Linked DNA regions of Homo sapiens: region 1 is linked to region 2. The links come from fine-mapping of genetic effects on gene expression. A gene starts in region 2. The other region holds a variant in brackets. All regions are shown on one strand. Distances are from middle to middle. Region 1 has its middle 42 kb from the start of LONRF2. Region 2 holds the start of CHST10 (carbohydrate sulfotransferase 10).

What was found. PIP is the estimated chance that this variant, and not a neighbour inherited with it, causes the effect.
Region 1: its variant is the best candidate, but not a certain one, in a credible set for the expression of CHST10 in whole blood (INTERVAL, PIP 0.53).

What each region holds. Positions count from the first base shown.
Region 1 is chr2:100,361,612-100,366,980 of GRCh38, reverse strand. No RefSeq gene overlaps it. Among named protein-coding and RNA genes, the nearest start is that of LONRF2, 42 kb to the right of the region's middle. The variant T/C (reference allele first, on the strand shown) is at 3,010.
Region 2 is chr2:100,415,032-100,420,413 of GRCh38, reverse strand. It overlaps CHST10 (carbohydrate sulfotransferase 10), which reads left to right and starts at 2,746. Exons shown (of 7, transcript NM_004854.5): 1 at 2,746-3,040; 2 at 5,303-5,373. RefSeq lists silencers at 2,641-3,090, 3,101-3,250.

The DNA of each region.
Region 1 (5,369 bases), 53 kb after region 2:
AGTCTTGCTAAAGTTTTATTAATATTAATTTTTTTCAAAGCTTTTTGTTTCATTGATTTTCTCTATTAGTGTCTTATTTTCAATTTTATTTTTCTCTCATCTTTATTTTTGTCTTTTTTCTTTGGAATATTTTTGCTCTTCTTCTACTTGATCAGATATTAATATAGCCTACTTTTTAAAAAACTTTTTTTTTTTGAGATGGAGTCTGACTCTGTCACCCAGGCTGGAGTACACTGGCGCAACCTCAGCTCCCTGCAACCTCCGCCTCCCTGCAACCTCTGCCTTCCAGGTTCAAGAGACTCTCCTGCCTCAGCCTCCCAAATAGCTGGGGTTACAGGTGTCCACCATGATGCCTGGCTAATTTTTGTGTTTTTAGTAGAGACAGGGTTTCACCATGTTGGTCAGGCTGGTCTCAATCTCCTGAGCTCAGGCGATCCACTTGTCTCAGCCTCCCAAAGTGCTGGGATTACAGGTGTGAGCCACCATGCCTGGCCTTAGATGTTGGCTGGGCGTGGTGGTGGGCGCCTGAAGTCCCAGCTACTTGGAAGGCTGAGGCAGGAGAATGGCATGAACCCGAGAGGCGGAGCTTGCAGTGAGCAGAGATCACTACAGCCAGGGTGACAGAGCGAGACTCCGTCTCAAAAAATAAATAAATAAATAAATAAATAAATAAATAAATGCACTTTAATAATTTTAACTTAATGTCAGGAATGAAATAGATATCACAATAAATTTAAATTTTTAACAATTTTAGCTATTAGACTTTTAATTTTAAAATTCATGTTTGCATGGTATATCTTTCTGTATCATTTTTTTTATGTATTTATTTTTTTGAGATGGAATCTCGCTCTGTTGCCCAGGCTGGAGTGCAGTGGCATGGTCTCAGCTCACTGCAACTTCCACCTCCGGGTTTGAAGTGATTCTTCTGCCTCAGCCAACCTGCCTAATGTCACTGAATTTTAAACAGCAGATAATTAGTTTTTTTTAATACATATTTGGTTAGTTTCTGTGTTGTAGGAAGTCAGGGACCCCGAATGGAGGGACCGGTTTACCAGGACCCATGTCTGCCAGTAACCATAAAGTTGACTGTTTGGTCTCTTTTGCAACCCAAGAAGCTCAGGAGTTCCATAATCTCACTCATGTCAATGCTGCTGGATTAAAAGATAAATTTGCTCTTACCTGGAAACAGGCTAAGTTTATTGTTCACAGCTGCCTTCAGTGTCAAGTCTTTGTACTTCTAAACCAGGAACCTGGCGTTAATCCCAGAGGCCTAATTCCTAATGCTTTATGGCAAATGGTTGTGACTCATGTGAGCTCCTTTGGCAGACTGTCATATGTGCATGTTTCTGTAGACACCTTCTCAGGTTTTAACTGGGCTACTTGCCAAACAGGGGAAGGCACGGCCCATGTTACAAAACATCTGTATTCTTGCTTTGCAGTTATGGGGCTTTCATATCAAATTAAGACAGACAACGCCCCTGGATGTGTTAGTAAGGCTTTTGATTTATTTATGCAACAGTGGGGAATTTCCCATATTACTGGAATCCCTTACAATCCTCAGGGACAGGCTGTGGTGGAACGGGCCAATCACACTTTAAAAGCCCAATTGTCCAAATAGTCTGACCAACAAAAACATAATTTAACTACCCCCCACTCCCAATTACATTTGGCATTGTTTACTTTAAATTTTTTAAATGTCCCTAAGAATAATAATCTAACTGCAGCCAAACGCCATTATACAGGCAAAAAATTCTCCCTAAACGAAGGCAAGCCAGTGTTATGGAAAAACTCCCAAAGTAATACTTGGGAACCTGGCACAATTATAACGTGGGGAAGAGGATATGCTTGTATTTCACCAGGAGATCATCAATCCCCTGTCTGGGTACCCACCAGGAGACTCAAGCTTCGGGTGAATACTGACAATGAAAACCACAGGGAAAAGACGTCTGTGTCAGAGACCGCCCTCAGACGTGGTGAGATCTGTGCCGACTCCTCAGAAGCAGGCACACCAAATCACAATGGGTCTGATTCAACCCTCCCTAATGGCAATGGAGACCCATCTAACTAATCCCACTTCTCCTGATTACCTTTCTTTTTCTCCTTACAAACCTAAAAATCTCACTATTTCTATTAGCCTGAAAATAACATCCCTCTGTTCTCTTCCTCCTTCAGCACTGAATCTCGCTTACAGTAGGTTTTATTTAATGATTCTCCTCCTTATACTTTCTGTCTCACCAGTTTCCTCTCACACTGATTTACCTGCTACACATAATTATTCTTATGTGCCTTTTCCTCCACTTATTCGACCTCTTACCTGGATAGATGCTCCTGCAGAAATCTACACTAATAATAGTGTGTGGATGCCTGGAGCTATAGATGACCATTGCCCTGCTCAACCAGGAGAAGAAGGCACTGCATTTAATGTTACCATGGGTTATAAATATCCTCCTCTGTGCCTCGGACATGCACCTGATTGTATCCATCTAGAAACTCAAATCTGGGCTGCTTATCTTCCAGAGAGATCAGCTACAGAGGAACCGGGACATTTGGTCTCTGGCCTCTCCCTTTCTCCTTTAAAACAAATGAAAGGGGGAGTAATTGGAGATACCCCATACTTTCAATATAAACCTGCAGGAAAACCATGCCCTAAAAATTTTGAGGGCCCATCTAAAAGTTTAATTTGGGAAGACTGTGTTATCTCACATGCAGTAATATTAAAAAATGACTCATATGGTTTAGTAATAGACTGGACACCAAAGGCCTATTTAAAAAACAATTGCTCCTCTGGTGGAAGGGAATGCCTGGAGGCTACTTATTTTATTTCTTATTGGGAGAATGAGAATCATCATTCTACTTTGCATAGGAGGTTCAGCTCATTCTTTCCCTTAAAATGGGAAGATAAAGGCATTACCCCCCGACTGAGGCCTCGTATGATACTCCCCATTCTGAGCCCAGAACACCCAGAACTTTGAAAATTGGCTATTGCCATGTCTGGACTGTGAGTATGGG[T/C]AGGGGAAACTATTCTGTCTGTTGTCTCCACTACCGTCCCCCTCTCTCAGTATCAGCGTAGATCCAGACATTCTGCTTTACTTACCTCCAACCTGACTGTTCCCATACAGAGTTGTGTTAAGCCTCCTTACATGCTGTTAGCAAGAAATATCAAAATTTTGATGAACAATCAAACTATCCAATGCATTAATTGTCATTTATACACTTGTATTAACTCCCATTTTGACTCCAGAAAAAGTGTAATGTTGGTTCGAGCTCGAGAAGGAATCTGGATTCCAGTAACTTTGCCCAGAGCTTGGGAATCCTCCCCCTCAATACATTTAATTAATGAAGTGTTACAGCAAATTCTAAAAAGATCTAAGAGATTTGTTTTCACTTTAATCTCTGTGATCATGGGCCTAATTACAGTCACTGCAATGGCCACCACTGCCGGAATGGCGTTACATCACTCTATTCAAATGGCTCATTTTGTTAATGATTGGCAAGCCAATTCCACCTAAATGTGGAATTCTCAACAAGGCATTGATCAAAAATTGGCTAATCAAATTAATGATTTAAGACAGTCTGTTATTTGGCTTGGAGATAGGGTGGTGAGTCTCGAACATCGCGTGCAAATGCAGTGCGATTGGAATACTTCGGATTTCTGTATCACCCCGTATTCCTATAATGAGACTGATCCTTCATGGGAAATGGTCAAAGGACACCTTCTGGGTAGGGAAGATAATTTATCATTGGACATAACTGAATTAAAGAAACAAATTTTTGCAGCCTCTCAAGCTCACTTATCCATTGTGCCTGGAGCTGAGGCATTAGATCAGGCAGCAGAAAATCTTTCTGGACTAAACCCCACAACTTGGATTAAGTCTATTGGGGGCTCCACTGTAGTAAATTTTGGAATTATGTTTCTCTGTTTAATTGGCTTGTTTTTAGTGTGCCAGACCAGTCAAAGAATCTTGCATCAAAATCGAGAGAACGAACAAGCCTTCATCGCCATGGCACATTTATATAAAAAGAAAGGGAGAGATGTTGCAGGAAGTCAGGGACCCCAAAAGGAGGGGCCAGCTGAAGCCATGGCAGAAGAACATAAATTGTGAAGATTTCATGGACATTTATCACTTCCCCAATCAATACTCTTGTGGTTTCCTATGCCAGTCTTTAATCTCTTAATCCCGTCATCTTCGTAAACTGAGGATGAATGTCGCCTCAGGACCCTGTGATGATTGCGTTAACTGCACAAATTGTTTAAACAATTTGAAATCTGGGCACCTTGAAAAAAGAACAGGATAACAGCGATGTTCAGGGAACAAGGGAGATAACCATTAGGTCTGGCTGCCTGTGGGCTGGGCAAAACAGAGCCATATTTCTCTTCTTTCAAAAGCAAATAGAAGAAATATTGCTGAATTATTTTTCTTAGCAAGGAACATCCCTGAGGAGAATGCGTTCCTAGAGGGAGGTCTCTAAAATGGCTGCTCTGGGAACGCCTGTCTTTTACAGTTGTAGATAAGGGATGAAATAAGCCCCAGTCTCCCGTAGCACTCCCAGGCCTATTAGGACGAGGAAATTCCCGCCTAATAAATTTTGGTCAGACTGGTTGTCTGCTCTCAAACCCTGTCTCCTGATAAAATGTTATCAATGACAATGCATGCCCAAAACTTCATTAGCAATTTTAATTTCACCCCGCTCCTGTGATCTCGCCCTGCCTCCATTTGCCTTGGGATATTTTATTACCTTGTGAAGCAGGTGATCTCTGTGACCCACACCCTATTTGTACACTCCCTCCCCTTTTGAAAATCACTAATAATAACTTGCTGGTTTTGCAGCTTGAGGGGCATCACGGAACCTGCCGATATGTGATGTCTCCCCTGAACACCCAGCTTTAAAATTTCTCTTTTGTACTCTTTCCCTTTATTTCTCAGATTGGCCGACACTTAGGGAAAATAGAAAAGGACCCACGTTGAATATCGGGGGGCTGGTTTCCCCAATATCTCTGTCTTTTGGTTTACTTAGACCATTTACATTTGAGGTAATTATTATTATTATTATTATTATTATTGAGACGGATCTCACTCTGTTGCCCAGGCTGTAGTACGGTGGCATGATCTTGGCTCACTGCAACCTCCACCTCCCAGGTTTAAGCAATTCTCTTGCCTTGGCCTCTGGAGTAGCTGGGACTACAGGCACGTGACACCACACCCAACTAATTTTTTGTATTTTTAGTAGAGATGGGATTTCACCAAGTTGGCCAGGCTGGTCTCGAACTCCTGACCTCAGGTGATCTGCCCACTTTGGCCTCCCAAAGTGTGCTGAGATTACAGGCATGAGCCACCATGCCTGGCCTTCATTTGAGGTAATTATTCATA
Region 2 (5,382 bases):
TTACAACTAGTTGTTAGTACTACTTCTGATCTCATCAGAAAAATCTTTAAATATTGGGAAGCTGTCAAACTTACAGTGATGGATACAGGTTTTGCAAAAGTCTGATTTTTCACTTGAAAGCTTGAATGTTATCACAGACAACAAACACTATCATTTGTTTTTCTTGAAGTGACAGGCCCATGTCATTCATTTTGGAGGAAATGTCTGCCAAATGCCCAAATCTGGGTAACTGCAGTTTGTCTGTCAGTTCTGCTTTCAAGTAAAACTGGCGTTCCATAAAAAAGAGCTGCAGCTTGTGCATTGCAGGCCATTGCACAATGGCACGGCCTTCAGCAACCATCATCCTTGGGATGCAGCAGGATTGTTTCTGTGCATTTCCCACCCTGTCATGAGGGACATGACTGCTTCACGGGGGACATTCTTCAGTGACACTTTGTGTTTGTTTTTACTGCAAGTGCATGGTGGTGAAGGATGCAGTTACTACTGATTTGGTGTTGTCCCACTGCTGGGATTTGTGCTTACTTTTGCACAATCAGAGCAAATGTCTACATTGTAAAGAGGACAAATAATGTCCCAGTTCAACTATGAAAACAGTTTTGTCATTGCAGATCCTCTGAAAGGATCTTGGAGACTCCTAAAGATCCACTTTTTGGAGATCACTCTTTGCGAACTGCTATTTTAGAAACAATCCTCCTGCTACAAAGACTAAATATTTGGCTCACACGTGTAATCCCAGCACTTTGGGAGGCTGAGGCGGGTGGATAACTTGAGGTCAGGAGTTTGAGACCAGCCTGGCTAACATGGTGAAACCCCGTCTCTACTAAAAATACAAAAATTAGCCGGGTGTGGTGGCACGCACCTGTAATTCCAGCTACTTGAGAGACTGAGACAGGAGAATCACTTGAACCCAGGAGGCAGAGGTTGCAGTGAGCTGGGATGGCACCACTGCACTCCAACCTGGGCGACAGAGCGAGATTCCGTCTCAAAAAAAAAAAAAAGACTAAATACTAATATTTTCCTAGACATTCATTTATAGGAAAAAAAGAGGAACTATTTTGAAAAACTCCAACAAAAAAAACCAAAAAACCTCAGTTACCTTAGTTGTCAATGTGTAAGCCTCTAGAACAAACTCCATCTTTTAAAGTTTTGAACAGTATCTTGGGAATGCAGTAATAACAGTGACAATAGTGTGTGTTTGTTGCAGTGTTTACTACTGCGGGATGACTGTGCTTTGTATTTTAAATGCATCCTCTACAATATTCTTTAGTACCACACTTTTTTTTTTTTTTTTGAAGGAGTTTCACTCTTGTTGCCCAGGCTGGAGTGCAGTGGCGAGATCTCGACTCACCGCAACCTCCGCCTCCTGGGTTCAAGCAATTCTCCTGCCTCAGTCTCCCGAGCAGCTGGGATTACAGGCACGTGCCCCCACTCCTGGCTAATTTTTTTTGTAGTTTTATTAGAGACAGGGTTTCTCCATGTTGGTCATGCTGGTCTCGAACTCCCGACCTCAGGTGATCCACCTACCTCCGCCTCTCAAAATGTTGGGATTACAGGCGTGAGCCACCACGCCCGGCCTAGTACCACATTCTGTAGATGAGAAGACTGGGACACAGAGAGATGAGAGTGTGACAAGGTCAACAGTCATATGCAGTGACTAAGGCTCTGAATCCACGTGGTCTGATTCCCAGAGCCTTGATCCTTAAATCCTGCATAATATGCTGCATCACATCCAAGCTTCACATTTACTTACTTCTTTTCTGCCGTGCACGTGTATCGATTCAAATCCTCAAAGGGAAACCCAATGTCTCATCTCAACCACAGGGCCCCAAAAAAGGGCTCAGTAAACGTCTTCTGCATGAGGGACAGAACCTTTAAACCATGATTAGTAATGGGGCTAGAAGTGAAATACTCAAACAGCCAGCTCCCTCAATATTATTAACTCATTAAGGAGGGAACCAATAAAAAAGAAAAAAAACAAAAACAAAAACGCTTGTTCCTTGAAAGCTTTGAAAAATTGTGTGTGTGTGTGTGTGTGTGTGTATACATACACGTATCTATTTTACTTGTTTGCTAAATAGACACAGATATAGTCGGGTAGTTAACAAACATGTAGGTTGTATAAAAATAAAACTAGTTTATCTTCTTTGGGGCAATAAAATCCCAATACCTTTGAGGTTGACTCAGGCCTTATCCATTTCTGCAGGTTAAGAAGTTACAATTCTTCAGGTCTGTAAACTGGTCAGGCCGTTATCATTGTCCTTCGTTAATCCACTGTACCTAGACAACAGTTACATCCCCAACCCGGACAGCCAAGGGGGTTCTTTAAAGAATAGAACGTCCCCCTTTTACTAAGTAGGCTTATTAGAAAATGCTAGAAGTTACCCTTAACGCAAGCAAGTGGCCTTTTTCCAAGTTGGGGATTTAAGAAATTTACTTATCTATTTTTTGTATTTTTCCAAGGTGGTTTTGTGTGTGTGTGTGACTTTGTTGTTGTTTTGGTTTGGTTTTTTGCCTTTTTCCAAGTTTGGGATTTTTTTTCTTTCTCAAAAAGCGAACCTGTTTTCTGGATGGAGGCCCAGCGGGACTTGTTCCGGCCGCAGGTCTCGGTCAGAAAGAACGCTTTTGCAGCGGCAGAAAGGGAGACTCGGGATCCGGGCCTGGGGTCCCGCGGCCGCGCCCCTCCCCACTCCCCGCGACCCGCTGGAACGCGCACGGCCGGGGACGGCGGCGGGGACGCGCGCGGGCAGGCGGCGCGCACGGCCGGATAGGCGCGAGGGGGCCGCGTGAGGCGGTGCCGGCGTTCTGGCCCCCAAAGCCGGTCTAGCGCGCCGGGCGTCTTCCTTACTTCCGCTGCCGCCGCCGCCACATCCCGGGACCCGACGGGCCGCGGCGCGGAGGCCTCGGGGCAAGGTGGGGCGGGCCTCCCGAGCTCCCAGGACCCCGCGCGCTTCGCCCACAGGCCCGGCGAAGCCCGACCCGCGCGGCGCCCCCAGGGCCAGGGGAGGAGCCTAAGGACCCGGACGAGCGCCGCTCCAGTAGGGTGAGCTCGGGGACGCGCAGGCGGGTGGGTTTCAGCGCCTGGGCCCCTCTCCCCGCCGCGGGGCGCACGGAAAAACCGGGGAACCCGCGGGTTTTGTCCTGGCGAGCCACATCCCGGTGTGTTTTGGCGACTTGAAGACCTCCCTAGTTCGCGGGAGTAGCGGGAAGAGCCTTCCTCGCGTTAATTATGCAATAAGAAGGCGTCCTTGTGCGGGATGCTGTGACCCGCGGAATTATTGATATTGTGCGAGCCTACAATTTACTTCTTTCATCCTTGGCTGAGAATTTGCGTTTGTAATTGTAGATGGAGAGAGGAAGAAAGGGTTCAGCTTGGGTCCAAGGAGCATGCAGAGGAAGGCAGGGAAGAAGGAGCATGTGCAGCTTCGGTGCGAGGGGAGTCAGGGGTGGGAATGCACGTTCCCTGCCTGAGGGGCCCCGGGGTGCCCTGAGCCTCTGATCTTCGCTGTCAGGAGGCCTGTCCGAAGTTGGAGGTTGAGGCATGCAGTTCTGCACTTCTGGCTGGGAAGGTGAACCAGGTTTTCCAAAATGTCATTTTTGCTTTCCAAGTCTGCAAGGCAGGAAAGGGTTGGGCAGTGAATGGAAAGTAGTGCAGCCAGGTTCTGGTTAGCTCAGCGGCAGGACTGTCATAACGGTGGGTTTTTGTTGTTGTTGTTGTTGTTGTTGTTTTGTCTGAAAACCAGAGTCTGGGGCTTTGGGCCATGAGGAGTTGGGTTATTGCATTGCTTAGAGTGCCAGAGTGAGAAATGTCTCAGACGCTGTTAAAATTAGGCAGCTCAGTTTAGCTCTGGCTCTCTGATAACCAACCACCTCCTCCTTCACTCTTTTCAGTGACTGGGTTAAAATGAAAAGACACAAAGAGAGAAGTGGTCTTTTCCCTTCCCTCCCCATTATAATTAAGAGCTTAGTCCATCTTGGCTCAGAATTGGAATTCAGAATTCAGAATTGCTCTTGACCCTGAAGAATAGAATCTCAAAGAAATACCTGAGCAGAAAATTCTCTTCTTCGCTGAAATGAAAATTGGAGTGTTTGCAAAACTGAACAAAGAAAGGAAAGAATTTGTAAACATCACAGGCAACTTGCAGTTATATTCGGATCATTTTTCAGTGTTTGAGGAGTTCATACAATAAAAAGGTGAGAGAGAGCCAGGAATAGAAACAGGGGAGAGAGGTGGTTGCAGGACCTTAGAGATTGCAGAAACCCAGGAGTTCATTTTCTTTTCATACACTTCTGGATAACCTGGATGTGAGGACCATCAAATGCCGTACATGATGTTTCTAACAATGATGGACCACATATACAACAGTGGTCCCATAAGACTATACTACCTTATTTTTACTCTACCTTTTCTAATTTTAGATACACAAATACTTACCATTGTATTACAGATGCTTACAGTATTCAGTACAGTAACAGCAGTACAAGTTAGTAGCCCGGGAGCAATAGATGATTCCATATAGCCTAGGTGTGTGGTCAGCTGTACCATATAGCCTAGGTGTGTGGTTAGCTGTACTATCTAGGTTTATGTAAGAACGCTCTGATGTTTGCAGAAGAACATCGCCTAACGATACATTTCTCAGAAGGTATCCCTATTGTTAAGTGATGAATGACTGTATATAAAGCTTAATCTTTCAATCAACATAATAGGAAATTGCTTTTAATTTTAGCATTGAGTTCTTAGAGTAAAGGGAGGCAGAGAGAGACCGTGCTGCATGTGTCCCAGTCAGCTTGGGCTTTATTGTATGTTAAATGAGTTGTATGTTTATTTTGGTAGATCTCCTAAATCCATGATCTAATTCCATGACTTTGGCTTGTTTCTGGTTTTTTATGATATGGCATTTGGCTAAAATTTTCCAGGTGCTAAAGGTGTAAGGAGTACGAAAATCCAGAGAACATTTTGCATTGGAAGAATTGATCATCTTGTATAGGAATCCTATAACTATTTCAAACATACGAAACAGGCATAATTGGATTTGATTATTTTTGCTACAAAAAATGTTTCATTTTTCACACTAAGTTACATGGAAGAGTCTTTTAAACAGCTAGTGGTTTTGGTACATTTAGAATATTCATTTACCAAGAAATCCAAATATAACCTGCCTTTGTAAGAGACCCATTCTGCCAAATATATTTGAATCATCAAAATGGTTCACTATTTCCTTCCTAAGTATAAACCAAGTTGTATTAAGTAAGTTGATCTTGTAACTTTTAATAATGCTTTTTTTTTTTTAATTTTCCTATCCAGTGACAAGAGGAACCAAGAACCTCAGTTCAGGGGAAACACAGCAAGGAAATGTGAGCCCCAGGCTGCAGAAGGTACGTGAA